Regions from separate parts of the Homo sapiens genome. Here region 2 is linked to region 1. The links come from fine-mapping of genetic effects on plasma protein levels. A gene starts in region 1. The other region holds a variant in brackets. All regions are shown on one strand. Distances are from middle to middle. Region 1 holds the start of PTRHD1 (peptidyl-tRNA hydrolase domain containing 1). Region 2 holds the start of NCOA1 (nuclear receptor coactivator 1).

What was found. PIP is the chance, under the fine-mapping model, that this variant and not a neighbour inherited with it causes the effect. Protein levels are from antibody-based Olink assays in UK Biobank. Linkage for the fine-mapping came from a reference panel and not from the study's own genotypes, which makes the PIPs less certain.
Region 2: its variant is fine-mapped to the plasma level of the PTRHD1 protein (UK Biobank, PIP above 0.99).

What each region holds. Positions count from the first base shown.
Region 1 is chr2:24,785,232-24,797,251 of GRCh38, reverse strand. PTRHD1 (peptidyl-tRNA hydrolase domain containing 1) reads left to right here and starts at 3,861. Exons shown (of 2, transcript NM_001013663.2): 1 at 3,861-4,126; 2 at 6,671-7,524. The coding sequence starts at 3,875. The coding sequence ends at 6,841. CENPO (centromere protein O) reads right to left here and starts at 3,827. Exons shown (of 8, transcript NM_001322101.2): 1 at 3,751-3,827; 2 at 3,287-3,400. The coding sequence starts at 3,332. LOC105369164 (a long non-coding RNA gene) reads left to right here and starts at 4,177. Exons shown (of 3, transcript XR_939843.4): 1 at 4,177-4,485; 2 at 4,668-4,868; 3 at 5,473-6,660. RefSeq lists an enhancer at 3,771-4,200 and a silencer at 5,962-6,041.
Region 2 is chr2:24,485,441-24,497,598 of GRCh38, reverse strand. NCOA1 (nuclear receptor coactivator 1) reads right to left here and starts at 6,345. Exons shown (of 23, transcript NM_003743.5): 1 at 5,997-6,345. RefSeq lists silencers at 5,573-6,062, 6,217-6,375, 6,353-6,692. The variant C/A (reference allele first, on the strand shown) is at 5,486.

The sequences.
Region 1 (12,020 bases):
TAAACCAGTACTTTCTTCCTCACACCTTCTCCCTGACCCAGTCCCAATCCATTACCAGATCCTATTGAATATACATTCCTAGTATCTCTAAAATATTTCCATTTTCCCCATCTGCAATGCCACCATTGTAGTTCAAGCTACTACCATTTCTGGCCTATTACAAGTTTCCTAGGTGGCCCATACACTGAAGCCATATTTCAAAATCTAAACTGGATCGTGTCATCCAGCTGGCTAAAGCCTTTCGATGACTTCACACTGCCTACGAGGCCTACTGGCCTCTGGATCTCTCTTACCCTCATCAGTATCATGCTGCTCCTTCTCTAGGCATTTCCACACAGGCCTCCTCTCAGGCTCTCAAACCCGCCCAGCGTCTTTACTGACCTGATCCCCCCACCCCCAACACACACACCAAAGGCTCTTCCACAGCCGCCCCTTATCCACCTTCACCTGCAGCTACTCTAGCTCGTTAGCACTCAATGCAAGCAGCATTTCCTCAGGGAAACCTTTGTAGCACCTTCAGAACAAGGTCAGGTGCCAGCTCATAAGCTCTCAAAGATCCTTCTGAGACAATACTATAGTTTTTTTGTTTTTGTTTTTTAAATAAAGAGATGGGGTCTCACTATGTTTCCCAGGCTGGTCTCAAACTCCTAAGCTCAAGCGATCCTCCCACCTCGGCTTCCCAAAGTGCTAGGATTACAGGCGTGAGCCACCGCACCCGGCCACTATAGTTTTAATTGTATATTCATTAGTGTGATTATTTGATTTGCTTATCTTTTCCACTGAACCTTAAAGTTCCAAAATCAGGGACCGTGTGCATTTGTGTTCACCCATGGATCCCTTAACCCTAGCACAAAGTGTTTACACATGGTAAACACTCCGGAAATGGTTATTTTTTTCTGAGACGAAATCTCACTCTGTTGCCCAAGCTGGAGTGCAGTGGCGCGATCTCAGCTCACTGCAACCTCTACCTCCCAGGTTCAAGCAATTCTCCTGCTTCAGCCTCCCAATTAGCTGGGACTACAGGCATGCACCACGATGCCCGGCTAATTTTTGTATTTTTAGTAGAGATGGGGTTTCACTATGTTAGCCAGACTGGTCTTGAACTCCTGACCTTGTGATCCACCCGCTTTGGCCTCCCAAAGTGCTGGGATTACAGGTGTGAGCCACCGCGCCCGGCCAACACTCCGGAAATGTTTACCGAAACACGGACAACCAGGCATGACACTCTTGGAGATTACATTCACTTGGCTCATGTCCACAGAAAAACCCACATTACCGCAATAATAATCGTGAGAAACCAAAATTCTAATTAAATAAATTAGTCCTAATAATTAGCACGTGATTAACTGCTTTATTCACCAATCTCTATTTATCCAACAACTATGCATTGAGAATTTACTATGGACCAAGGACCGTGCTGGAAGTTATTCATACTGTGGTGGCAAAACGAAGTCCCTGTCCTCACGGAGCTTACAAAAATTAATGTCCAACCAGGAGGTGATCTGAAAAGCACGCACACATAGAATAATTTAGGGTGGTAGAGGAGACGCCTCACCAAATTCTACTTTATGGAAATTCTATATTACTAAAACAGTAGATATCAATATTCCCAAAGTTTCTGAGATAAGTAGGTGTTCAAAACAGTATCATGCTGCTCCTTCTCTAGGCACTTCCACACAGCCCTCTTCTCAGGCTCTCAAACCTGCCCAGCTTCTTTACCGACCTGATTCCCTCTACACCAAGGGGGTAGCGTTGTTGTTTAGCGTTGCTACTACAGAAAAGAGGGAGTGTATCTGCTGGGCCTGCTTTACCTTGGAAGTTATGATTGCATCTCATCCTAGCCAGTCAGCTTTGTCCCAAAAAAAGTCAAAATCCCTGCCTATTTGAATAAATCATCTGGTTGCAACTACAACTCCATGTCCTTCCTTCTCAAATGAGTGGGGAGAATTCAAATAATAAGCAAAAAACTGAAATCAAACAAGCAGAGGGATAAAACCAGTATGGGTAACAGCTAAGTGTTTAAATATTGTTTTGGGTAGAGAATAAGGAGACTGGTCTAAGTCTCTTGATAATCCAAAACTTCCACCTCATCACTTACTTTAACAGAAATGAAATAAGGCCTGGACTAGAGAACAGGTTACTCCTGAGTGTAGCATGTTTCCACTACATAAAGTCACCAAACTTATTTTTAGTCTTAAAGTAACAATAAATCTTACCCCATATACTTTTATTATCTAAAGTCTCAGCTTAAGTCATCTTAGGCTGAATATAGTTACTTCTCTGTTATCAATGATAATGATGACCCAGAGAAAAATAGGATAACCAAATTCACTGACGCGCTCAGAAATTCTTTTTAAAACTGTAATTTAAGTTAGGTTTTATGGCAAGCTTTCCCAAAGTACTAACGTAGAACCCTTTGGATTTAGGCATCAGGCTTGAGTAAGTATTTCAAAGTTCTAAAAAGTATTAGTAGCAAAGAACATAAAGTCACACAAAACCAGAACTGTCCACAAATATTACTAGGCACTAAAGAAGAAAGCAACTTACTCCTGGACAGAAATTCAAACGCAAATCTCAGTTTCCAAAGGATTGACTAAGGACTAAGTAAAAGTAATAGTTTCGTAATTCTAAGCAACTCTAACAAGCATTCTTTAAACACCTTCTACATTTTAAGACACAAAGTATGTAAAGAATTAAGCCTTTCATTGAATATTTCCTATATATTAGACATGTGCTAAATGCTTCACTTGAAAAGTCTGAGTTCAATACTTTTCCACCACAAAAGAAATACTTTTTCCACAACCACAACTACAGTGCTATTTTCACCTCCATTTTCCAGATGAAGAAACAGAGGCAGAGAATAAAGTGACTTGCCTAAGGTCACAATATTTATCATGGCAGAGCCAACACTCAAAACCAGTTCTAGCCAACACTAAAGTCACTGCCCTACACTGGCCCTCCCTCAAGAGTAATGCATACATGGCCCAAAAAATCCGGGGAGAGGAAAGGGACCTCCCTGGCTAGAACCGCAGTTCAGAATATAAACACTGAGCATATGATGGATGCAACTTATCCGTTTCAAAAGGGGTGGGAGCCTAGAAACGAAGCCATTTTTCCTCCTCGAATAATCTTGGCTGCCTGTCCCTTTGTCTTCAATGTTAGTTCCTTTCACTATTCTGCTCCCAAACAGGCCAGGTCCCACGTCAGTTCCAGGAGGAAAGGGCTCTCTCAGCCTGCGGGTCATCTTTGGGCAGCAGCAGGAAGGAGGCGGCGACCCTCTGAATACCTCCTTTGGACTCGCCATCTGGACGTAAAGGGTTCGCCTGCTCCATCTCAGATTCCCAAGGGCCTTCCCATGAAGTTGTCTAGGCAACCGGTGATAGGGACTCCAATGTCCTTGCTAATAAAAGAAAAATGGCAACAGTCACATCACATCTAGTCCCATTCAAACCCAGACGGCAGGGCACACACCACTCAGGCACAACCCCTGGGCCGCGGATGACACAAATGTCACGGCTAGGATCCCCTTTCCTGAGCCGCCCGCCCTCTCCCATCGTCCGAGCCAGCAGAGTCCATGCCCACCCCCGCGCCCATCCCGCGGCCCCGGCGCGCTCCCGAGGCCACGGCTACTCTGGTCCAGCGGGCTTCCCGGCCACGGAAGGAGTTTTAAGAAGGCCGTTCAGCCCGCCACCCTGGCCACGGTCCGGTCCGACAATGGGTCTTTCCCCTACCTTCTCCCTTCTAGCTCACCCAGGCCAGAAGCGAGAATTCCCGCCATCCACGTCTTCAAAACCAAACCAACCGGTCCCGGCGTGCTTTGCGATCCTGCCGTACAAAAGCATGGCGGCGCTCAGGGCCCCGCCCTGATCCCAAGATGCACCGGGGAGTAGGTCCGGCCTTTCGGGTGGTCAGGAAGATGGCGGCCTCTGGGGCGGAGCCGCAGGTCCTGGTACAATACTTGGTGTTACGAAAGGATCTATCACAAGCTCCGTTCTCCTGGCCGGCGGGCGCACTGGTAGCGCAGGCTTGTCACGCGGCCACCGCGGCCTTGCACACTCACCGCGACCACCCGCACACAGCCGCTTACCTCCAAGAGCTGGGGCGCATGCGCAAAGTGGTCCTCGAGGTGAGGCACTCGGGCGGAGGGGGAGGTGCTGAGACATCGAGGGCGGAAGTGGGTGTGGTCTTCGGTCCGAAGGCCTGGCTGCGGGGAGTGGGTGCGGCGGGAGTTGGGGTGATCGTTAACATTTAGACTGGAGCTGTTTCCCTGGAGGTGCGCCCTTGGGAAGGGCCTGACTGTGTGAAGAGTGGACAGCAGTCCTCCGCCCCCTGCTGGGCTCGCGGTAAAGTGGTGGCTCCTGTGTCCCCGCTGTTCCGCCTGTGCACTGGCCGACTTTTTAAAGCCATGCCCCAAAGTGCTGTCCTCCTGCAAAACCGAGCCCGAAGGGACAGTGCAAAGTGAAGTCAAACTGAGTATTTACCTGGGTAGGACGCCAAATTATTTGAAAATAAATACTAAAAACGTTAGTATAAATTGAACCTAGCTTCAGCTAGACCAGGCACCAGGTGTGTAAATCGGTACACCTTTTAAAATAGCAGTCAGGTTCTGTTTGCAGATGACCAAACAAATCTCACCCTTACCCTTTGACTCTCTATCCTGCTGCTAGAGATGTAGCCTAAGAAAATAATCAGATGCACCCAAAGAGCTTTGCACAAGGATATTCATGGGAGCCCTTATGGTTTTGAAGCATATTTAGTGGTCGGGAAGAGTGCTCATGATGCGAAGCTAACTGAACTATATATACAGAATGATCCAGACTTTGAAAGGAAAAACTAAAGAAATACATCTACATATTAAGTAGTGCATGGTGAGATTTTGGTTATTTCCTAATGCTTAATCTGTATTTTTAAAATTTTCTACCTTAAGCACATATTTTATAATAAGGAAAAACGGCTTTAATAATAAACGGCTTTTTATAATAAGGAAAAACGGCTTTAAGCCAGAACTCAGGTGGAGGGGTGGAGTAATCCCTTCATGGGTAACTGACAAAGATAGATTATCTTTCAAGAGAAAAATTGCTGCTGGATAGTGAAACATCAAGCGGTAACCTGTAGGAAAAATGCCTTGAGAATCTGTGTAGGCAGAACAGAAGCTGCTGGCTTTTCACTTAGATTTTCTTCCTAGTAAGAGGTCTCAAGAAATCAGGTTAGACTCCTCTTGTCGCAGGTGAAACTCTCTGAAGCCTACAGGGATTAAGTGACTCCCCTGAGTTTAAAAGAGGGTCTCATGATTCTTAGTTGTTAGTCATGACTCAAGAAAGGGACTTAGGAGTCGCTACTGATTACATTGAGGTGCCGCTGTAGTCAGAAGGGCCAATAAAATATAAGAAAATACCAGGATTAACTACATTTATTGAGTGCTTAGTGTGTGCCAGGCACAGGTCCAAGCCTGATTTCATTGATCCCCATTAGGAAGCATTATTCCTGTTTTATAAAGGGACGAAGAGGCCAGCGAAGTCACCTAACTTATCCACGATCACACAGTCAGCAAGAGTTTGGAGTCCAGTAGTCTGATTCCAGAGCCTCACTGTATCTCACTATGCTCTGCTGCTGCCCGAGGCTGAAGAAGCTGATGAGTCCTCCAGCAGAGCTCTGCCAGAAGGACTCAGCAGGTTAAGAGTCGCAATACTGGCATTCTCTAATTTATTAAAACAAGCCTCTGAGTAGCTTAGTGGCTTCTGCCTTCATAGGTAAGAGATAAACTTTATGCAAAATAACACAAAAATAATAATTTTCTGAGTGATCGTTTTAATACTTCCTGGAATGGGATTCAGCATGGGTGAATTGGCAGTAAGGATGACCCAGAAACAATTTCAGAAGGATGTTAGAGAATATTGTACTCTCCCTTTAATAAACAAGTGGGAGCCATCCCAGCAGAAGGAAAACCCCTCTAGGTTTCAGTGAGGTAGAGTGGGAGGGGTGGAGGAAAGTGGAAGTGGATGTGCTTTTAGAAATCCTTCCACTAGGGGCCGGGCATGGTGGCTCACTCCTGTAATCCTAGCACTTTGGGAGGCTTAGGTGGGTGGATTGCTTGAGGTCAGGAGCTCCAGACCAGCCTGGGCAACATGGTGAAACCCCGTCTCTACTAAAAATACAAAAATTAGCCAGGTGTAGTGGTGTGCGCCTGTAATCCCAGCTACTCGGGAGGCTGAGGCAGGAGAATTGCTTGAACTCGGGAGCCAGAGACTGCAGTGAGCTGATAATCGTGCCACTGCACTCTAGCCCAGGCGACAGAGCAAGACTCTGTCTCAAAAGAAAAAAAAAAAAAAACTTCCACTAGGCAGCTCTTAAAGTCAGAGGCACTTAAAATTATGGGCGCCAGCCATAGGAGAGCTGGAAAATGTATAGAGCAGAATTACACATTACACATGTGTGTGTTGGGCATACAACATCTCACAAGGGAAGATACAAATCTCCATTTTCTAAACTGGAATATGAAGCCTCTCTCCCCTCCCCAGTGCACCACGGAATGACATCATTGCTCTGCAGCTCCCTCCTTGGTAAAGCTGTTACTCCACTTTCAGGCAAGAGGACTCCCGAAACCTTTTTTGGCCTTTTGACACTTCCTAAGTGGGCTATTCAGTTTGTGTTCTGTGTTCTTCTCCTTTAGGCCCCAGATGAGACCACCCTAAAGGAGCTGGCCGAGACCCTGCAACAGAAGAACATTGACCACATGCTGTGGCTTGAGCAACCAGAGAATATCGCCACTTGTATTGCTCTCCGGCCCTACCCCAAGGAAGAAGTGGGCCAGTATTTGAAGAAGTTCCGATTGTTCAAGTAACTGCTGCTTTGATGTGTTTGAATACGCAGGCCACCCATTCCAAAGCATCATGTGTTCCTTGCAGTGTCAGCTTGCTCCCGTCTTTCAGTTGTGACAATTTCTTGAGGGTTAAGCACATGTTCATATTAAAGTTGTCATTAATAACTACTTCCTCTTATTAATAAGTTCAAGTGGGGAAGGTGGGAGAGCAGTATTGTCTGGGGATCATTGCTCAAATAGAAGATTTGGTTAGACTCTCCTGTGGGGCTCAAGGAAACTCCCTTCCAGTCACTCGGGTTTGAAACTTTGCTTTTGAATTCCTTCTTATTCACATCCAGTTATCATATTTCATTGAATCTAAGATAACATCAACTTTAAGATGCGGTAGTATTTTATGTATTGTTAAAAAATATGCCGGCAAATTAAACACTTGTATTTCAATAACAAAGATGTTAAAATTTGGCCAGTGTGGTGGCTCACATCTGTTAATTCCAGGGTTTTGGGAAGCCAAGGCAGGAGGATCGCTTGAGCCCATGAGTTCAAGGTTACAGTCAGTTCTAATCATGCCACCGCACTCCAGCCTGGGCAACAGAGTGAGACACTGTCTCTATAAAGATTAATAACAAGTTAAAATTTGTGTGTGTCTATATATATGTACATACATACAGATTTATTAGATTCAATGAAATCTGTCAAGTACTACAGCTGTTTTCTTGTCATTTCAGTGCCGTTGCCCTGTGTCAGCCTCTCATTTTGCTCACTGGCGTGTCCCACGGTCTGTTCACCGCCAGTGTGACACTCCAATCCAGCAGCTGCTTTGCCACCACATAGGACGACTGAACACCTACCTGTGTAGTCTAGGCTCCTCTCTGCCTATGGAGTAATCCCAGCACTCCTTAGCTTAGACTTCAGGCCCTCCTCATGTGTATTTCCTACCTATCTTTTTTGTTTTTTCGAGATGGAGTCTCTCTCTGTTGCCCAGGCTGGAGTGCAGTGGCGCCATCTCTGCTCACTGCAACCTGCGCCTCCTGGGTTCAAGCCATTCTCCTGCCTCAGCCTCCCGAGTAGCTGGGATTACAGGTGCATGCCACCATAGCTGGCTAATTTTTGTGTTTTTTTAGTAGAGACGGGGTTTCACCATGTTGGCCAAGCTGGTCTCCAATTCCTGACCTCAGGTGATCCGCCAGCCTCGGACTCCCAAAGTGCTGGGATTACAGGTGTGAGCTACCGTGCCCGGCCTCCTACTTATCTTTTTAGTTGAATCTTCTATTCCCTTATTCAAACTTGATGTTTCCACAGAGTCCCTCCAGTTGCTATTCTCCAGTCTCTGGCATGGGAGTTGAATGTTACTACTCCTCCCCTCCCTTTCCTGCCCCTGGACTTTACTTAAACTATTTCCAGCTCAAGTGCTATCACTGCCAAAAATTCTTACCAAGCCAAAAATGATAGTTCCTTCTCTGAACATCTGTAACACTCTGTACAACGTTTACAATATTTCTATAAACATTTGGACACATCTACAGAAATTGCTTAGACATCTGTGAAGCAAAGTTTATAAGGGGTAATTTGTTCAACAGATATCTATTGTTTGTCTGCTGTGGCAGGCTGTGCATAAAACAGTTTTGCCCTCAGGTAGCTAAGAACCTATACGGATATTACCCGTCCCCCTTAGATAATGTTCTGCTAAGATCCCAGATAAGATTTCCCTTCATGGGCCCGGTGCAGTGGCTCATGCCTATAATCCCAGCACTTTGGGAGGCTGAGGTGGGAGGATCACCTGAAGTCAGGAGTTTGAGACCAGCATGACCAACATGGTGAAATCCTGTCTCTACAAAAAAAAAAAAAAAAAAAAAAAAAAAAAAGATTTCCCTTTAAGAAAGGTGGTCACCTGAATCAAGGAGAGTGGATGGGTCTCTCTCACAGGGAGAGTTGGTAGAGTGCTGAGGGCAGAGCCAACCCCAGGAAGCCAAGTGAATGAGGAGTTGAAGGGGTAGAGAACAATCAAGTGCAGCATAGAATGTCAGTAAATAAAACGTGGAAACATTTAGCAATTGGGAATGTACTGGTGAACTTAGTGAAGTTTAAATAGCATAGTGAGGGTAGAAATCAGATTGTAACATGTTGAGACAAGAATGGGAGGCCAGGCGTGGTGGCTCACACCTGTAATCCCAGCACTTTGGGAGGCCAAGGCAGGCGATCACGAGGTCAGGAGTTCGAGACCATCCTGGCCAACATGGTGAAACCCCGTCTCTACTAAAAATACAAAAATTAGCAGGGTGTGGTGGCAGGCGCCTGTAATCCCAGCTACTCGGGAGGCTGAGGCAGAAGAATTGCTTGAACCCGGGAGGCAGGGATTGCAGTGAGTAGAGATCGTGCCACTGCACGCCAGCCTGAGCGACAAGAGCAAAACTCCGTCTCAAAAAAAAAAAAAGAATGGGAGGGGAGGGAGGTAAGAGGTGAGAAGTGTCCTTTCCAGAAGCTTGAAAGGGAGGAGAGAGAGGATAATGACTGAAAAGGGGCTGGAAAGATCAATGCTGGGTCCCCTAGTGGGGATTTTCTTAGATCTTGAGCAGGATGATGGGTGAGGAGGAGAAAGTAAGGAGAGGAGAGATTAAGAGATTAAAGTTCCCAAATAGAATAACTGATGAAGTCCAGAGAAAACAGGAAGAGATGGGGTCAAAGGCTACGGGAAGAACTGGCCTTGAACTGAGAGAGGGGAAACTTCTTTTCTGAGACTGGTGGAAAGGCAGATGGTGAAGATATAGATGTACGTAGGTTTAATAGATTGTAGGAGAAAGAAAGTTGAAGTTGACCATACCTGCTGACTTTTTTTCTATTAAGTAGGAGGCATATGCACTATACTCAGCAAACTAAAGCAGCAACAGAAAACCAAATACCACATGTTCTCACTTGAAAGTGGGAGCTAAATGATGAGAACACATGAACACACAGAGGGGAACAACACACACGGGGACTGATTGGAGGGTGGGAGGAGGGAGTGGATCAGGAAAATAGCCAGTGGGTTCTAGGTTTAATACCTGAGTGATCAAATCTGTACCACAAACCCCCATGACGCAAGTTTACCTATAAAACAAACCTGCACATCCTGCACAGGTACCCCTGAACTTAAAAGTTTAAAAAAGTAGGAGGCATACGATCTTTCATAACACTGAATAAACTTATTGAGCACTATATTAGCTAGCATAACAGTGAGTAGGAGCCTAGGCTTTGGTGTCAAACTGCTTGAGTCCAAATCTGGGTCTCATACTTTCAAGCTCTGTGGACTTGGGCAGTGACTCTATTTCCCTGAGACCCAGTTCCCTTATCCGTAAAGTGGGGATTTAAATGTGTTTGGATGTACAAACCCCTTAGAGCAGTGCCTGGGACTTCGTGCTAGAACCTAAACTTGGGAAGATGCAGATGGCACAGCCGTCAGAGCTGCCCTCCAAGAGTTCTCCATCAAGTAGGCCATTGTCTACCCCTTTCTGTTAGGGAGTGATGCCATCCAGGAATCATCAAGTACCATTTCCATTCAAGCCAATTAGGAAAATGTTTCTAAATGACACTGCATCTTAAAAAAAATTAAGTTCTGAATTCTTCAGTAAGACATAGTATAAAGCTAGACAGGCCAGGTGCGGTGGGTGGCTCACGCCTATAATCCCAGCACTTCAGGAGGCCGAGATGGGCGGATCAAAAGGTCAGGAGTTCGAGACCAGCCTGGCCAACATAATGATACCCCGTCTCTACTAAAAATACAAAAAAATTGCCGGGCGCAGTGGCTCACACCTGTAATCCCAGCACTTTGGGAGGCCGAGGCGGGCGGATCATCTGAGATTGGGAGTTCGAGACCACCCTGACCAACATGGAGAAACCCCGTCTCTACTAAAAATACAAAATTAGCTGGGCGTGGTGGCCTGTAATCCCAGCTGCTCAGGAGACTGAGGCAGGAGAATTGCTTGAACCCAGGAGGTGGAGATTGCGGTGAGCCAGAGATCGCGCCATTGCACTCCAGCCTGGGCAACAAGAGTGAAACTCTGTCTCAAAAAAAAAAAAAGTTAGCCAGGCATGGTGGCACGTGCCTGTAGTCCCAGTTGCTCGGGAGGCTGAGGCAGTAGAATCTCTTGAACCTGGGAGGTGGAGGTTGCAGTGAGTCGAGATCGTACCACTGCACTCCAGCTTGGGCAACAGAGTGAGACTTTGTCTGGGGGTAAAAGAAGCTAGACAGAAATGAGACACAGCTGGGAGTTAGCAGATTTAGGCAAATCCGTAAAGCAGAGATCTGAGCACAAATAGCATAAATGTCTGCCCAAGGGTGGGGAAGAACAGGAACTCATGCGCTGACGCTGAGTGAGAGCAAGACAGCAGCAGGAAAGCAATAGATTTTCTTATTGGTATCAGCTTAAGACCATGATCATTTGAACTAGATCAGTGGCTCTCAAAGCGGTGGTCTGGTCCCTAGATCAGTACCACTTGGGTACTTGTTAGAAATGCAAATTATCAGGCCCCACCCCAGACCCACTGAAGTGGAGGCTCTAGTGCTACCTAGAAACAGCCTGGGCCCTGGAGACAGCCAACCTAAAAGAGGAACAATAAATGTGTGTGGTTTAGAATCAACACATTATGAGAGGGTATTAAGTGCTCACAGGAAGGAGTCAAATAGCAGAAATCTGGCACCAAGTGCACTGTATTTGGCCATGCATACTAAGGTTACAGAAAATTATGATTTCTCCAACAGGGCAAAGATGTGCTGCAAACCCTAGAATAGACGCTATATCCTTGAAAACAATCTCCTATGCTTTCATAGATTTCTTTTTTCTTTCTTTCTTTTTTTTTTTTTTTTTTTTTTCTGAGACAAGAGTTTTGCTCTTGTTGCCCAGGCTGGAATGCAGTGGAGCAATCCTGGCTCACTGCAACCCGTGCCTTCTGGGTTCAAGTAATTCTCCTGCCTCAGCCTCCAGAGTAGCTGGGATTACAGGTGCCGGCCACCATGCCCAGCTAATTTTTTGTATTTGTAGTAGAGAGGGGGTTTTATCTGTCACACACATCCCTGTGAAGAGACCACCAAACAGGCTTTGTGTGAGCAATAAAGCTTTTTAATCACCTGGGTGCAGGCAGACGGAGTCCGCAAAAGGAGTCTGCAAAGGGAGATAGGGGTGGGGCAGTTTTATAGGATTGGGTAGGTAGTGGCAAATTACAGTTA
Region 2 (12,158 bases), 300 kb after region 1:
CCTGGTTCAAGCAATTCTTCTGCCTCAGCCTCCTGAGTAGCTGGGACTACAGGCTTGCGCCACCACACCCGGCTATTTTTTGTATTTTTAGTAGAGACAGGGTGTCACCATATTGGCCAGGTCTCGAACTCCTGACCTCATGATCTGCCTGCCTTGGTCTCTGAAAGTGCTGGGATTACAGATGTGAGCCACCACGCCCAGCCCACAAGAATCTTAAAGTGACATTTTCATCAAGTAACTGGTATATATGGCTCCCGGGTCATCAGAAAGGAACAAGACTGCAGGAGTCTCCACAACACAGGTATTCAAGAGAAAGAAAGTCCAGAAAGAAAAAAAAAAAAGTATAATGTGGCCAAGTGTGACGAACATGCTTGAAGAGAAGCCAATTGAAAGGTATGAATATGATTTCCACTCAGTAGGCTTGAACTCAAATGTCATCCCTAACACCTATAAGCTGTGCAATCTTACGCCAGCCACTTAACTTCCCTGAGCCTTGTTTCCTCATTTATAAAATGTAATATGTAGAGCTAGCACAGTACCTGGCTCAGAGACAACACTCAATAAATATTTGCTGACTATGAATGAGGGCCTTACAAGAAAAGCAGACGTTTTTCTACAGGTACTTTTGTAGTTTTTGAGAAAACGGTCTTAATTAATTCCTAATTAATACCTTTTTACAATATTTGAGAGTCATATTTTGGTCAAAAAATAAAAATGCTCCTTTCCTCCTAGCTTACACATTACTCAAAAGCTTACAGGAATTCTTATTATTTAAAATATCTTTGTAATATTGTAACTTTAAATACAAAAAGTAACTCTCATAAAGAAACCCTATTCCCAACTACATCTGCATGGACTTAGTCTGCTCAGCTGTAATATTAAGAAGGCTGTCCTAAATGATCATTTAAGGCTCTTTAACTCTAAATGTTGTAGTTCCTGGCATCTCAAGCGTTTTCCAATCTGTTTAGGAAAACCAATCAACACACACTAAAAAGAGAATCTCTCTCAAAAGAAAGAGAGAGAAAGAGAAGTTTATTATACAGAACAGAGTACCTAATGCTAAGGGAGTGATAAAAATCAAGCTTTCTTGAAAACATACCAGCTTTGATGCTGTTTTTGAAGGTCACGAGAACATAAAGGAAATCCAATTTAAATGAAGAAAATGGAACATGTAAAAGCAAAGACGCAAGATATCTATGATTATCATAATACTTTCTTCATTGCGTAGCACTTTACAGTTTGCGAAGTATTTCTGCATATGCCATCTACAGCAAATTTTCTGGAATGGGAAATGAAAGAATCAGTTTAAATGATTTACATTTGATAAATTTGCCCACAGAAAATCTCCTCTGAAAACAATAACATAAAAAAATTTTTTTAGAAGGGAATTTCTTCAGCATTATGTGTAGGACAAATTAGAGAGGTAAATGCATGCAAGCAAACAGCTATAAACCTACAAATCACAGAATTTTAAAACAAGAAGAAATGTGAAATTAGACCAACATGCTCATTTAATGATAAAGAAACTCAGGCCCACAGAGTCAATGTGACTCCCATTACTCCATGTGCAAATGACAGGAGGACCAGATTGCAGAACCAGAAATAAAGGAAAAAATTTGAGAAATTACAAAGAAAAGAATGCGAGAATTTGGTGATGAATTCGCTAATGAAATACCTGTTAGTCATTAATGTCTATGTGCCAATCATATGCTAAACACATTTAATAATTTTAAAGATTACAATATGAGGACAAGTACGTTACTCCAATTTTAAATATAAAAACTGAAGTTTAGTGTGGTTAAACAGCTCAAGGCTACATCAACCTAAGTATCTGGAAGAGCTAGGACACCTCTGTCTGTCTGGTCAGAGTTTCTTTTCTAAAAGATGCTTTAAAATTGCCCCACAATTATAAGCTGAAAGGGCAAAAATGAAGCATCACTCTGGAAAAACTGGATAATCCAGTACAATTAGAATTCTGGTCCTGATAATGGGTGCGTTTTGCTTCCGTGCTTGCACCTATTTTTATGAGTCTGGCCTGTCTGTGCCTAATGGTCAGGTCAGGGCTACTCAGTAAAACCAAACATCCCTGCCCTCCACACACTAAAACATACTCTCGGGGAGTGGTAAGAACAAAATATATCCAAGATGAGGGTGAGTCTTCCATAACTCCTCGAGTGACTAGAGCTTCTATTTTGGCATAAGCTACTTATCTTTTAAATATGATAACCATACTAAGCTTTTCTAAAAGCCTATCACTCCAAGGAGCCTCAAAAATTCTGTGTTGCAGATGGGGTTATGGGGGAAGAAGCATGGATACAACTCACTTTACTTAAACTTATGGAATTGGACTTATATGTTGGTATCAGCGTTTTATAATAATTTCCCTTATTCAGCCATGTATCCTGCAGAAATATATAATAATCATTTCTATACATTAATCCAAATACTATAGCCCACAAACCATTTTCCAGAACTAAGCTATTAAAAAAAAAAAACAAAAAAAAAACACCTTCATCTCCTTATGAAATGAAGCAACCAACATTGGTACCTAGTTGCCACTAGGCCATTTTATGACCTCTGACACCAAATGTTGAAAGGCACAAGGTCTAACTAAAATATAAAGAGAAAAGGAAAGGTTTTAAATGACTAGACCTCATCTTCAATGTTAAGAATAGAACATGAGGCCTATCCTTAGTTGCCAATCACCAACGGCTAAACTACTGCTAATCTGGGAAAGAAGCAATTTTAAAAAGTCCTTTCCTACAGTCTAGTCTTCCCAAATGGGTAGGAAAGTTAATCTAAGATAGGGAGAAATTTATACGGTTCTGCAGCCCAGATCAGATACAGTGTTCTGACATCCACCTCCTGAAACACATGGATTTCACCCGAGCCCACACCGACCACAGCATCCAATATTTGCAAGTAATGCAAAATGGAACCCTCCAAAACATTTTTGGACCTCTGCCAGGAAAGCAGCTGATGGTCCTCTGAGAATTTCTGTTATAATCATATTTAAAAGGCAAAAACCAATGCCAAAACAATCATGAGCGTCCCGGGGATCTCCTATGCTCCATGACTTAGATTTTACTCCGTGTTGTGCGTTGTATTGACCTCCCACACCTGCCCTATAATGAAAACTATGTTAAGCCACATGGCTTAAGGCCAGCCAACTCCATAAGATATGCAACATAACATTCAAACAATGTGGAGTCCTTGGGAGACGCAGCAAAAAAGACAAACTAAAGTACGGAACAGAGGTAGTATCTAAGAGGAGGTATATGAAATTGATGACAACCAAGCAGGGAGAACTAAAACATCCTTGAAAAACAATTATAAATCACAGTCTAGTATACAGATTCCCTATACAGAATTGGGGAAAAGAATTTCAAGAAAATGCCCAATACCCTCTCTCCACCACTCCACCTTTCAGCACCTCTATACCACCCTCATCACTTACTCAACATTTAGTCCTAGTGAAGACCGCTCACTGGATTAGCAGGATCAAGAAGACATGCACAGAACATTCCATTCTGAGAACAACATCTTTAAATTATTTAGGCTTGTTTACCACCCTTCCCTATAGAGTAAAAGCATGAAATGTTGCCAGCACTTTCACAATATACACCAGTTAGCACCATAGCAACCCAATCTTCTGCCCACCAAAAGATTAACACATAAGCAGAAAACAGGAAATTCAACAAAAATTAAAGTTTGACCTTAGACTCCCTCAACAGTTAAATGTCTTAAGTAGTAGCAGTGTCTTTACATCACACCCGCTTCATGCTACCCTTACAGCTTCCTGGCATAAGCAAGTTCTTGGGATTATACAAACTGCTGCTTCTGTTTGCAGCCCAGATTTCTAGAAATGAAACCCTGGAATTGAGGGAGAAACAAAAACAAATGTTCGCAGAAAGAGGCAGGAAGAAGCATTGTCTATATAATCCTAGTTTAAGTGAAACAATCACCATTAGCTCCATCAAGCACTTTTTTTTTTTTTCCAATAAAACCACTGCAGATCTAAAATACTCTCTTGGTTTAAACCACACAAAAAGCAATTTAATAGGCACAATCCTACAGGTTTTCTGAGAGAAATAAGGAAGAGATCAAGTGTAAGCTACGTAAAATTCACGTTTTGCACCTTATAAAGCAAACTTCAATGTTGTTAAATAACCAGTAGAAAATATCTACAAAAATCAAACTAAACACCTGTTCTTATAAGCAGCAGTCCTCTATTTTCTCTCTAAACCATATATTCCCAACTCAGACCCTCTCTGTGACCCACTGTTCCCAAAGCATAGAGTCTGAAGAAGAAATATAAAACATTTCGGACATTCGTTCACAAAACCAAATTAGACCTTTCCACAAAGTACAGGAGATAAAACAGAAACACTTCCATTTTATCTAATTTATGGCAAATAGTTCAAGGAATGCCTATTTGTTAAGCTGAATCAAACCCCACTGCTACCTTTAACCCAAAACTATTTCTAGTTGAAGATCCAAGAGACCTAAGCAAATACTTTCTTTTCACATTATTCTCAACATGAAGAAATCCGACCCCCTTCCTACAACATCATAGGAGGCCCCTCTGGCCAACTTTCGTTGTTATTGTTGTTGTTTTGTTTGCTTTTTTTTTGAGACTAGCCTCCAACCAATTCCAGAAGAGGAGACAAACCTCAAACAAATTTAACCCTTGAGATCCATCCCTCAACTGTATCATATAATCTACGCTTCACGGCAGTAATGTTTTAAGCAGACACTTGATTTCTTAATCACTGAAATGTAAGCACCAGCCCTCACAAATCATCGCCACAGAGATTCCTCTTGGCATCCACAGAGGGTGCTGGGACTGCAATTCACTCAAGAACCCTTTACTCACCAACATCACACTCGACATTAAAAACTCACCGTCTCCGAAGAAAAAATGTCACCTTCTGCACAAGGACACCTGCCTGTTCAACACCTCTACAAGAAACGAGGAGGGCCAAGCATGAGAGGCTAACAGATCCTCCAGCTTAAAGTTTTCCTCCCCATGAAACTCTCCGGACACAACACCGTGGCCTGTCCTTGTCACACACACACAGGCTGTATTGTCAACCCCTCCGTCTCCCTCTAACGTCGTCAGACTGGGCAGTGTCTACCCATGGGGGTAACTGCTTTTAAATAAAATAAAAAAGCAGCCACCACAGCTGGGTAGTAAGGACTGGAGACCCTGGGTGTCCGATTTTTTCAGGTCTTTTACAAGGGACTAGAGAGCGGCCCGAATTCTGTCACTGCCCACTAACCAACCCCACCTCCCAATCGCCTCGTCAACATGTTTGCTTCCCTTCCTCGGCCCTTTCGGCTGAATCCCAGGAAGGGGACCAAACCCGGGCCGCGACAGGAACATGTCCAGTATCCATCCCATGTCTACCTCCGAAACCCCTTCTCGGGAGAAGGGGCGAGCAAGCGCGCCGGGGTCAAACCCAAGCGCCGTCGAGGGCTGCGC[C/A]GACGGAGAGGGACGCCGCGGTCGCCCCCATTTCGCGGTCCCGGCAGGCGAGATTCCGAGAGGTGAGCGGGCCGGCCAAGGTCACGGCGTCGTCGGGGCCGAGGGGCGCCCGCGCCGACTTCCGGCTCCCCCTCTCGGCGGCGGCCCGGGGCGCCCGCTCCCCACGCCGGGCAGGCGGCCGCGCAGCTCGCACCCCCTCCGCGGATGCTCGCCCTCTCCGCGCTAACTAGGGCAACTGGAAAAGAGGCGGAGAGAAGTCGCTGCTGCAGCGATTTCCCCCGGCGGGGAGCAGCCCCCAGCTGGTGCCCGTGACAGCTGCGACCTCCGCCCCCTCCAGCCGCGCCGGGCCGCGAGGGGAACTCGGGGAAGTGGGAGGAGGATGGAGCGGGAGAAAGGAGAGCAGGGGGCGGAGGGGCGCCAGCTGCTCCCCGCCCCCTAGGGCCTCCGCGGCCGCGCGGCTCGTGACAGCTGCACCCACCGGGAGGCTCCGCACCCGCAGCCCGCCACTCACCTGCCGCCGCCGCCTCTGGGCCCCGCTCACCGGCGCCGCACTCGTCCGCGACCGTGGCGGCGGCGCCGCCCCGGCCTCCGCCGCTCCTCGGGCCCGGCGCCGCGGCTCTCCGGCCCCCTCCTCCGGAGCAGGGGTCCCCCCGCAGGGGGATGCAGAGGGAACCTGACGCAGGCTCCGCTCGAGGGAGCAGCAGCGAACAGGCGGCGGAGGCCCTCAAGGCCGCGAGGCAGCCGTCGGAGGACAGAGCTCAGCAAATCGCGTCAGACTCCCGCTCGCCCGGCCTGAAGAACAGGCATTTCAGCCGCTCTCCGCGGCCGCCATGTTCTCCTCCTCGGCCGCCACCGCCGCCGCCGCCACCGCCCCCCGCTCGCGGCACCGCCCCCTTCGCGCCCCGCCCCGCCCCGCCCGTTCCCGGCCGCCCGCCTGCCCGCCCGCCGCACTTCCCCTGCCGGCTCCGGCCGCCCGGGCCGCCGCGACCCGGTGCCCGCGAGCTCCGACAGTGCGCCCGGGACAGCGCGCCCCCAGCCCGCCGGGCCTGCCGGGCCCGCCGAGCGAGGAACCGCCCCGCGCCCTCTGCCGGCCCGCCCCAGCCGGCGTCCTAACGAAGTGTGGGAAAGGAGGCCCGAACTCTTCCCCGCCCGTCTCAACTCCTCCCCGCCCCTCTCCTGCCCTCCCCTCGGGGCGTTCCTCCCACTGCTGCCGGGAAGCGGCCTCGAACACCAGGGCGCTCGCAGCTAGGCCGCCGGGCCTGCCGCCTCCCGCTGTTCTTTATCTTTCTGGGAAGGTGTCGGAGCGGCGAGAGGCCCTGCGGACGGGGCGGAGTCGGCTCCGGGCCTGTCCCTCCACTCGGGCGTTCTGTTACTTTGAGCGAGACATATCCCGCGGGCCTCGTTTTTTATTCTGTAAAATTGGGAGGTGGTTGCCTAGATGATTTCACAGGCTATTAGACAAGAGAAAAGGAAGATCGTCTGCCCCCTTCGTTTTACAGATGAAAAGATCTGCCTGACCCGTTCTGGCTCTGCAATTCCATGAATTATCTAAAATGTCTGTCATTCACAGATCTTTCCCCTCAAGGGGCCCACACCTTTCTTCTTATCTCCCTTTTCTTTTTTTTTTTTTTTTAACTTCTCTAATAGAAGTGCTACTTCCAAAAGTAGAGTGTTCTTGTCACCAGAGGAATCGAACAGCGGCTGAACAGCCTCTCTGAGCTGCGATGGCCTTATCTGGACCGCATCCCGCATTCCAAAGGCTGGCAATGCAATATATACCTATGTCTCTCCCTGGGTTGTCCTAAGCATGAATGAGTCACTCGCCGTGGAAGTGCCTTGTAAAGCATACATCTGTCCATTCCTTTCTTTTATTCTTACCCCATTTCGCACTCTTACCCTTCCTCAATCCTGTCCTGCTGCTGCTGTCTCCCGGCGTTTCCTGCTGTTTCGCTTCCTGTGTGTTCTCCCCTAAATCAATCTCTGTAAATCCTTAAGCCCTTCCCACCCTTCTCCCAACTGGGGAACCTGACAGCCTTGAAAACACCAATCTCCGTGGCAGCTCTCTGAGTCGACGGGCAGCTTCTTTCACAGGCAGGTACTACTGTATGCTTTCACCATCCTCTTCCTATCCTTGTCACGCTCATAAAGTAATCGCTAGACCACACCCCCACATGCATTCATATATTCATTCATTTATATATTCATTCCCCTGATTCTTATCGGAGACCTACTACTGGGGCCCTAGGTGCATCTCCTGAGCTCTGGCTTAGCAGTACCTCTAGCCACCCGCAGAGTCCCTATCCCCAATAATAGCTGAAAATACCCGGGCACTCATGAGTTTCGTCCCCTAATGTAGGGCCTACTTCCCAATCTAGTCCAATGCAGACTGTGTGAAAGTGCCTTGTTCTAGCCTCTGGTGCCAACAAATGAGCCACTTGTGCAAGGTACTCCTGTCTCCACTAGACTCTAGTAAGTGCTGAAGGCCAAATCTAGTGGCCACTTCAGTCCTACTGTCGTGTGGCCTTTCTACAGCACGTGATACTGCTAACTCCTCCTTTTTGAAACTCTCCTCCCTTGTCTTCAATATGAGTCTCTCTACCTGATTTCTGAACTTGCCTTCGTTTGCACTTTTCTTGGGCTGCTCCTTTTTTACGGGGCCATAAAAAATGTTGGTATCCTCAAGGTTTTATTTTTTTCCTTCCTTTCCTCTGGCTTCGGTTGACTGTTTATTTCCACAGCTTCAACTGTTAACAAAACAACTCCTGAATTTCCTTCTTCCAATCTCCCACTCTGCAGCCCGGGGTCGTAATTAACTTTAAAATATCCTCAAGACACACAGTGCTAAGATTTTGTTGAATGACAAATTATTTAGGTGTTAATTTATATTGCCATAACCATCCATGTATGCTAAAGAGAGAGTTCTTTTCTAGAATGGTACTGTTTCTTTTTTGTTGTTGTTGAAACAGAGTCTCGCTCTTGTCGCCCAGGCTGGAGTGCAGTGGCGCGATCTCAGCTCACTGCAGCCTCTGCCTCCTGGGTTCAAGTGATTCTCCTGCCTCAGCCTCCCGAGTAGCTGGGATTACAGGCACCCGCCACCACGCCCGGCTAATTTTTTGTATTTTTAGTAGAGACAGGGTTTCGCCGTGTTGGCCAGGCTGGTCTTGAACTCCTGACCTCAGGTTATCCACCAGCCTCGGCCTCCCAAAGTGCTGGGATTACAGTCATGAGCCACTGCGCCTGGTAATGTTTCTTAAATAATAACTCTTTGACTTTTTTCTCCTTCCTCTACAAGTCATAATCACTTGTCAAAGCAGTTATAACACCCTTTTATGTCTCCAATTGGTAATCTTTTCTCTGGTCATACTCAACTTCTCTCAGACTCCATCTACTTTTACTAAACAGGCCCATTTTACTAATCCACCCGAGCAACCCTAAATATAGGGCCAAAAGATTCATTAGATTTACTTCGTGACTGTACAAGTAGCCTCTCTAAAATCCATTTACCTTAGCTATTTAAAATTTATTTACTCCCAAAATACAATGCCAATCAACAAGGAAGACTAACTCCAATTAAATGAAAATGCTTTGAAGATATTTATAAATAAAAATGTAAGACAACATTTAACTCTTATAGCCCAGATAGAACTGGTTTTAGTCCAAACCCTATTGTTTCCATAAATTAATATAATCCTTTGGTGGACTAGAAACAGCCTAGTTCTACGGGCAAAATCTAGAACATACCTGTTGGATTTTCTCCAGAGCATAATAGATTTCCAGTTCTATAAAATATATGGCTAGTGTGCATGAAATTACTCCAGTTACTGAGGCAAGAATTGATTTAACTTTGACATTCTTTTTTTCAAATAGTTTTTTGTTTTATAATAATTGATACAGACTCACAAAATATTCAGTCAATAAAGAACAGCACAAAAAGTTTAAAAATAAACTTTTTCAAGCCAGAGAGAAACATAGTAAACATGTTTCCACACCTTTCTCTATATATATTTGCACATATAAATACACTATATGTAGTCAATTTTACATAAAAATAAAATCACGCCTGTAATCCCAGCACTTTGGGAGGCCGAGACAGGCGAATCACCTGAGGTCAGGAGTTCAAGACCAGCCTGGCCAACATTGTGAAACTCTGTCTCTACTCAGTGTGGTGGTGGGTGCCTGTAATCCCAGCTACTCAGGAGGCTGAGGCAGGAGAATCATTTGAACCCAGGAGGCAGAAGCTGCAGTGAGCCAAGATCGCCTCACTGCACTCCAGCCTGGGCAACAGAGTGAGACTCCATCTCAAAAAAATAAAATAAATAAAATAAAATCACATGATAAATGCTCATCAGTAATCTGGTGCCTTTTACTGTACAATGTATTTTCATCCTAATAGTTAAATACTCTTGCATTGTGTATCTGTTTAGCCATTTAATTCCTTACTAAAAATGTTTACATTGTCTGTATTTTTGTTTGTATATTTTTGTAAATCATGCTGTAATTCTAATGCATGCCTCCGTGCAGTTTAGAAATTATTTTCTTTAAATTTCTAGAAGATTAATTGTTGGCTCAAAGGGTACATGTTAATTTTTTTACTACATTATTTACCAAACTGGCCTCCAGAAAATTGTTTCAATCTGTGGTCCTAGCCATAGTGCATGAGCCTGCCACTTGCCCATAACCAGCTCTGTATTTTACCCATTTCACTTTGAATAATCTTTAATTTCTACATCTGCTTAAAGGATAGAGGTTAAGAAGACTAGGTTTAGAGTTAGGGAGACCCAGGTTTGAAATGGGTTTGTCACTTACTAGCTGTATGAAACCTGGGCCAAACCACTTCAACATCTCCAAGACTCAGTGTCCCCATCTGTAAAATAGGATGCTAGCACTTGCCTCAAAGGATTGTTGCTAAGATTAAATGAAATAATGTATGTAAAGCACTCAATACAGTATTTGACATTTAGGATTGCCCATGAGAAAGTAAATATTAGCTCACACTGAGAAGGTAAAAAATCAGCTCAACTGTTCATCAGGCTAGAAAAATAGGCACAGATAAAGTCAGCTGCAAAGTTAACAGGATGCAATGTCTCCTAAGGACGTGCTGCAGCTGTAAAGTATCATAATAACCCCCTTCTTCAAGTGACTACAGCTTTCCTACTCACTCAGAAACATTGTTCTCTAAAACCATAGACATCACAAACTTTGGTGTTGGCAATTATATCAGTAAAAATGAAGCAGCCCCAATTTACGACCCAGGTGCAGTGCTTTGGGTGGGGGGTTTCTGGACATAGCATTGTATACCTATCTTAACTTTATTGTTTCCGAACAACACAATTCTCAGTCTACTTTGCAGTCCAGGCTGGACATTGACCCCTTTACACACAGCTAAGATTTACTTTGAGTCTATCAAAATTCTGCTGTATTTAAACTGTATCTTGGCTCTGCTAAAGGTTACTATCTTCCAGCATGTGTTATTAAGTAGAAGTACGTATTACATATTCATAGAGTTCCATTTGGAGCATCTTATAAATTTCTTTTTAACAATTAAAAAATGATATTTGTGAAGTTAGCTACAGTTAAGCAAATTGAATGGTTTTTGCCTCCATGTGAAACTGGTCTGGGATTAAGTTTCTTAGAGTTTCTCTCAGTTCTAGTACCCTTCTAAACAGTTATTTGAGTGATAAAACTTATTGCCCAGGAAGCTGGGGTTTTTTCGTTTGTTTGTTTTTGAGACTGAGTCTCACTCTGTCACCGAGGCTGGAGTACAGTGGCACGACCTTGGCTCACTGCAACCTCCGCTTCCCAGGTTCAAGCTATTCTCCTGCTTCAGTCTCCCTAGTAGCTGGGATTACAGGCGCCTGCCACCATGCCCAGCTAATTTTTGTATTTTTAGTAGAGACAGAGTTTCACCATGTTGGCCAGGCTGGTCTCGAACTCCTGACCTCAAGTGATCCACCCACCTCAGCCTCCCAAAATACTGGGATTACAGGCATGAGCCACCGCACCCAGCCTGATTTTTAAAAGTCAAATAAAAAATACTATGTCAGTGTTCCATTATCAAAAAATAGGATCTCTGATCTCTTCAGCAGATCTTGTTGATTAGTTACTATAACTTTATTTCCATACATTATGCAGCAGTTATTTTTTAGAATATTCTTAGATTCTATGTTAGTTAATTCACTTTTCAGAACTAACTACTTAGCAATATTATCTTGCTTCAGGCTTGGTGGTGAATTCTCCAGTGTTATATTCAGTTCCAAGAAAGATGTTTGAACATGTTCACACCTATTGGGTCTTGGACCCAATAGCAAGGTAGGTGTGAACATGTGCAAGTATTAGTCTTCCTTTCCTGAATGACCACTTCACATCTTTTAGTTTCGACAACTGTCTTGTTTCTCCTAAGGTGTATATTATTCATGCACATTAATCTTAACTAAGAAGATTAAGGTACCATAAAATTTCTTTGTTTTTTAGATCTAAATTTTTGAGATTATATTCTTTATGATGGACATTTTGGTTATTTTAAATCTTTCACTATTAAAAGCACACTGCAATGAATGCTTTCCTCGCACCCTCCTGAGATTAAAAGATAATCTATTTTCTGAGTATTAATGGCGTAAAACACAGGCATGCCTCCCTAACATATGTAGGCTTCAATCAGACTTGCTATAGCAGC